2 separate regions of the Homo sapiens genome follow, and region 1 is linked to region 2. The links come from fine-mapping of genetic effects on gene expression. Tissue or cell type: whole blood. Region 2 holds a variant in brackets; the other region holds the start of a gene. All regions are shown on one strand. Distances are from middle to middle.

Region 1 (2,893 bases), 34 kb after region 2:
TCTGGTCTCCGACCTGACTGGAGAGCCCACCCTTCCCTGGTGGAAAAAAGCCTCCTCCCCAGCAGGCCCTGCCTATGCTCTTGCAGCAGGGGCAGGAAACAGGAACAGGTCCCAGAACGGGCCAGTCTCCCTCTTGGCAGTTTTTCTTCTGGGATCTGAACCTGTTTTACCTGACGCCGCCTGACACTGCCTCGGCTCCTCTCTCCCACCAAAAGCCGCAGCCGCTGGTGACGGGAACAGGGCTCCCATCCGGGTAAGGACCCTGGCTGGTGCAGCTGCACAGGTGGCTCCGAGAAACCGCCAAGCCTCAATGCCCACAGGTGCCATGGAATCCCCAGCCTCAAACGTGGAGCGTGGGGGCCAAGTAAGAAGAGAAGTCGAGGAAGGCCCTGAGTCTGCAGCATCAGGGCCCAGGCTTCTTCCTCTCTGCTCCGAGTCTGAGGCTCAGCCTAACGTGGCCAACCCCTGGCAGCGTTAAAACGAGCCTGAAGCCCTGCTGAGAACTGGGAGGCACAGAAGAGCCCACACCAGACCCGCCTCGGCGAGAGGTGTGGAAGTGGCGCTGCCTCGGAAAGGGCGCTGTGTTTAAACCGTGTGGCCGCACTGGCAGCCCGGACGCCGCGCTAGGCCCCGGATCGCCGACACCACTGGGAGGGCTCCGGGAGAACGCGGCTCGGGCTCGAGCCACGCATCTCCGCACCCGGCTCGGGACAGGGCCGTGGCCTCCACCTCCGGCAGGGCAGGGCCGAGGGTGGCCAGGTGCACCCCAGAGCCGAGGGGTGCGTGCCCGCCGGCCTGCGAGAGGAAGCTGCACCCGCGCGGGGCCAGCAGCCGGGCCCGCGCAGCGTCCCCCGCCCCGCTGGGGCCCATCCCGGGCTCCGCGCCCCCGCCCCGGCCGCCGCCCGCACAACCGCCCCCGGCCCCGCGCGGAGGCCTGGACGGGCGAGACGGGCCGGGTCGCGGGCTCCGCGCCGCTCACCTTCCCGGCCACCCGGCCGAGCCGCACGATACCCAATTTGAAGTCGGTCATGGCCGGGCCTGCGCTCTCGGCCGGCAGCGCCGCTCCCTCGGGAGGCGCCGAGCGGGGGCCGGGGCGAGGCCGCGGCGCGCCGGGACAGGACGGGACCGGAGCCGGGGTCGGGGTAGCAGCCAGGCGGGCTCCGGGCGGGACGAGGCTGGGCCGGGCTCGGGCCTCCGCCGCCGCCTCGCGCCCGCCGGACCTGCCACGCGCCGCCGCCGCCGCCGCCACCGCCACCGCGCGCACCACAGCGAGCGGAGCGGAGGGGCGGGGCGCAGCCCCGGACACACCCCCCGGCCCGCCGCCGCTCGGCCAATGGCTAGGCGCGCACGGCGCCGACCGGCGCGCGCCGCCCCGCAACAACCAATAGGAGGAGGGCGAGTGCGCCGGCGCTCTGGGGAGCGGGGCGAGCGCGGGGGAGGGGCGAGGCCGGGGGCGGTGCCTGCGCGCGCCGACGTCAGTTTCGCGGGAAGCTTTGTGCGGGCAGCGGCGCCGCGCCTAGAGGGGCAGTGCGGAGTGTGGCTGGGGACTCGCGCCGGGTCCGTGGAGCTCTGCGAGCTGGCTGCTTTTCGCCTCCCTTGCGGTAGCCTCCGTAAGCTGTTTCCCGCCGCCGTCCTGGCCCCGAGCGCGGAAGGAGGAGGTGGACGGAGCTCGTGCGGGGCCCTCTGGGCGGGCGGGGAGCGGGCGAGGCGGGCTAGGAAGAGGCCGTTGCCGCGGGACGCGGGTGTTTCTGGAGAGACAGCGGACGCCCGGCCCACGCGACCCGGAGGGCGCGGCCTCCCGCGCAGCCTTCTCCGAGCCGCCGGCTCTTCAGCCTCGGGGGCGGCTGACCTCCAGAGCAGCCTGGTCCAAGGCGTCTGGAAACGGAACTCCAGTGAGGCCCATTAGGCTCCGCGGGAAAGCCGAGACCCGCTCAGGGAGGGACTGGGTACGCCGTGGTGGGCAGCGTGGCTCCCCTGCAGCCTGGAGCGAACGGGGCTAGGTCCTGCGTCCTGCTCCGCCGGTGTCCAGTCGCCCGTGAGGAGGCCTCACCCTGCCTCAAGGGCGACTCCTGCACCTGAGGAGCTGCACAGGCTCCTTTCTGGCTTGCTGGGTTCCGTTTTCTTTTCTTGCTTTTTTTTTTTTTTTTTTTGAGTCAGAGTTTTGCTCTGTCACCCAGGCTAGAGTGCAGTGGCACGATCTCGGCTCACTGCAGCCTCTGCCTCTCGGGTTCAAGCGACTCTCCTGCCTCAGCCTCCCGAGTAGCTGGGACTACAGGCACGCGCCACCATGTCCGGCTAATTTTTGTATTTTTAGTAGAAGTGAGGTTTTTCCATATTGGCCAGGATGGTCTCGAACTCCCAACCTGAGGTGATCGGCCCACCTCGGCCTCCCAAAGTGCTGGGATTACAGGCATGAGCCACCGTGCCCCAGCCTGCAAAGGGTGTACATGAGTGAGCCCAGACGTTCCATCTCTGGGTCCCCTGGTACTTGCCAGTACCCCAGACACCCTAGAGGACTGAAGGGGCTGATGAGTCCTGGCCTGCCTGAGACACACATTGGGGTTCAGGCTGGGCCTTGCTCAAAACATGCCTGTCCGACCGCGCGCGGTGGCTCATGCCTGTAATCCTAGCACTTTGGGAGGCCGAGGCGGGCAGATCACGAGGTCAGGAGCTGGAGACCATCCTGGCTAACACGGTGAAACCCCACCTCTACTAAAAATACAAAAAAAAAAGCCGGGCGTGGTGGCGGGTGCCTGTAGTCCCAGCTACTTGGGAGGCTGAGGCAAGAGAATGGCTTGAACCCGGGAGGCAGAGCTTGCAGTGAGCCGAGATCGTGCCACTGCACTCCAGGTTGGGCGACAGAGCGAGACTCCGTCTCAAAAAAAAAAAAAAA
Region 2 (2,893 bases):
CGCATGGTCATAGAAGGAGCAGGTGGCCAGGAGGCTGAAGGCTGAGTCTGCTTCTTCTGGGTTCACGCCACAGTCACGTGTGGTGGCTGCTGTAGCCTGCAGCCAGGTGCCATTCTTCCTCATGCCCTCTGTGAGTGGCTTCATTCCACTCTGGGGTCTGGCATGGCCCTCCCCATCGTTATCCTCTCTGCATTCATGACAGGGTGTTGGCAACTCGCTTGCACCCTTCAGGTCTGCCGTCTTGGTTCCTAGGTTGCTAGGAAAGGACCACGAGGGGGCCCGCTGCAGAGAACGGAAGAGCAGCCAGGACCAGTCGGCTCCATACACCAGCGAGTCGGGCAATGTGTGAGATGTCAGGACCGTCGCCTCCTGCCTCTCCTCTGGAGTGAGAGATGGGAGAACCCAGGAAACACAACATCACCCAGAGCCTCTCCCCAACCTGTCACACCTGACAGGGAGACTCCAAGAACAGCCCCTCACAGGTCAGCAAGTGTTTCCTGAGGAGCCGTTGTGTCATGCAAAGGAACCAGCAAGACCTGGGCATATGTTGGAGAAGAAACAGACCGTCATCTTGCAGTGCACACGCCTGTGTGCCTCCAAGAGAAGCATCAAGCGGGGCTACAGAACCTCACTTGATGGTGAAGAATACGGCAAAAGCCAGAGAGGGGGAAAGACCTCAGTTAACACTTAAAACCAAAGAACAAAGGAGTTTTAGCCAGCTGGGAAGGAAGGGGATGTCTGAGGAACAGGCAGCATGTGTACAGCAGAGGTGAGAAAGTCCAAGGCTCGCACGGGGAACCACAAACAGGCAGCCATGGCACTGTCAGTGAGTGACAGTGGGCTGGAGCGTCCCAAGCATGCAGGGTCCGGCACGCCCTGTTTCAGAGTCTGGATTCTGGCTTGGAAAGGAGCCACTGACAAGGTTAAGTGAGCAGTTTCTTTATAGAAGTTGCTACGGCAACTGGAAAGAGGCCACAACTGCCTCCCAGAGCACACAGCAACAGAGGGAATGACGAGGCGTGGCCAAACCCGAGGCGATCTGGAGTCCAGGAGGCAAGGCCAGGGCTGGCAGGGGCAGTTGCAGAGAGCAAGTGGAAGGTGAGCCAGGGGCTGCAAGGCTGGGTGGCCACTTGGGCTCTGAAAGGGCTGCCATCGCTACCTCTGAAGTACAGGGATTGATGCCAGCAGTGACCGGAATCAGAACCAGAATGAGTGCTGATGGAAGAAGGGCTGAGGGCAGAACAGGACCGCACTGGATTACAAAACGTGCCGAGGTTGTATGGGCCTGGGCCGGGGAGGCCCAACCCTGGGCCCAGGGCTTCA[A/G]CTGGGCAGAGGTGGCTCCGAGGAGGAGTGAGATGCTGAATGTTCAGAGACAGCCACAGGGGCCCTCGAGCAGCATGTGTGGGGCGACCCTCGGGAGGAAGCCCCTGGGGAGGCCGTTACTGTCCCTTGGGAGGTAGCGTCACAGGGCAGGCAGGACCTCCGCTAGTCTTTCATCCAGCAATCGCTCAACACGTCCACTCGGGCCAGCAGGACCTCTTCTACAGCTTAGGAAAAGGTAATAAGGCAGAGTCTAAGCCCTCAGAGAGCCACAGCCTGGGAAAAAGACAGCGAATGAGTGGACGGAAGACACTGTTGCGACCCCAAGAATGGGAGGCCCTTTCTGATTAGCCACAGGCCAACGTTTCCTCCCTCTTTTTATTTTCAAGACAGGACCTCACTCTGTCGCATAGGCTGGAGTGCACTGACCTGGGCTCTGTCTTCCTGCCTCACCTCCTGAGTAGCTGCGACCATCATGCCCCCTAGTTTTTTCTATTTTTTGTGGCCACGGAGTCTCACTATGTTGTCCAGGCTAGTCTTGAACTCCCGGCTCAAGCAATCCGCCCACCCTTCCCAGAGTGCTGTGACTGCGAGTGTCAGCCACCGCACCCAGACAATACAAATTGTTTTAAAATTAGGCCGGGCGCGGTGGCTCACACCTGTAATCCCAGCACTTTGGGAAGCCAAGGCGGGTGGATCACAAGGTCAAGAGATCGAGACCATCCTGGTCAACATGGTGAAACCCCGTGTCTATTAAAAATACAAAAACTAGCTGGGTGTGGTGGCATGCACCTGTAGTACCAGCTACTCGGGAGGCTGAGGCAGCATAATTGCTTGAACGTGGGAGGTGGAGGTTGCATGAGCCAAGATCGTGCCACTGCACTCCAGCCTGGGTGAAAGAGCAAGACTCTGTCTCAAAAAAAAAAAATTGTTTAAATTAAAGATACAGGCTGGGTGCAGTGGCTCACGCCTGTAATTCCAGCACTTTGGGAGGCCGAGGCAGGTGGATCACATGAGGGCAGGAGTTTGAGAGCAGCCTGGGAAACATGGTGAAACCCCATCTCTACTAAAAGCACAAAAATTAGCCAGGCATGATGGCGCATGCCTGTAGTCCCAGCTACACAGGAGCCTGAGGCAGGAGAATCCCCTGAACCTGTGAGGTGGAGGTTGCAGTAAGCTGAGATCACCCCACTGCACTCCAGCCTGGGCGACAGAGCAAGACTCTGTCTCAAAAAAATACATAAATAAAGTTATGAAAAAGGCCAGCCGAGCACAGCGGCTCACGCCTGTAATCCTAACACTTTGGGAGGCCGAGGCGGGTTGATCACCTGAGGTCAGGAGTTCAAGACCAGCCTGACCAACATGGTAAAACCTCGTCTCTACTAAAAAATACAAAAATTAGCCAGGCGTGGTGGCACACACCTGTAATCCCAGCTACTCCGGAGGCTGCAGCAGGAGAGTTGCTTGAACCCGGAAGGTGGGAGTTGCAGTGAGCTGAGATTGTGCCATTGTATTCCAGCCTGGGAGACAGAGCAAGACTCCGTCTCAAAAAAGAAAGAAAAAGAAAAAAAGG

What was found. PIP is the estimated chance that this variant, and not a neighbour inherited with it, causes the effect.
Region 1: ZMYND19 starts here. The variant in region 2 is fine-mapped to the expression of ZMYND19 in whole blood (TOPMed, PIP above 0.99).

The regions. Positions count from the first base shown.
Region 1 is chr9:137,589,234-137,592,126 of GRCh38, forward strand. It overlaps ZMYND19 (zinc finger MYND-type containing 19), which reads right to left and starts at 1,279. Exons shown (of 6, transcript NM_138462.3): 1 at 980-1,279. The coding sequence starts at 1,030. It overlaps LOC124902318 (a long non-coding RNA gene), which reads right to left. Exons shown (of 3, transcript XR_007061885.1): 3 at 1,806-1,875. RefSeq lists an enhancer at 365-414 and silencers at 685-734, 785-894, 1,175-1,564, 1,755-1,824.
Region 2 is chr9:137,555,269-137,558,161 of GRCh38, forward strand. DPH7 (diphthamide biosynthesis 7) reads right to left here. Exons shown (of 9, transcript NM_138778.5): 9 at 1-380. Among named protein-coding and RNA genes, the nearest start is that of MRPL41, 4.8 kb to the left of the region's middle. The variant A/G (reference allele first, on the strand shown) is at 1,324.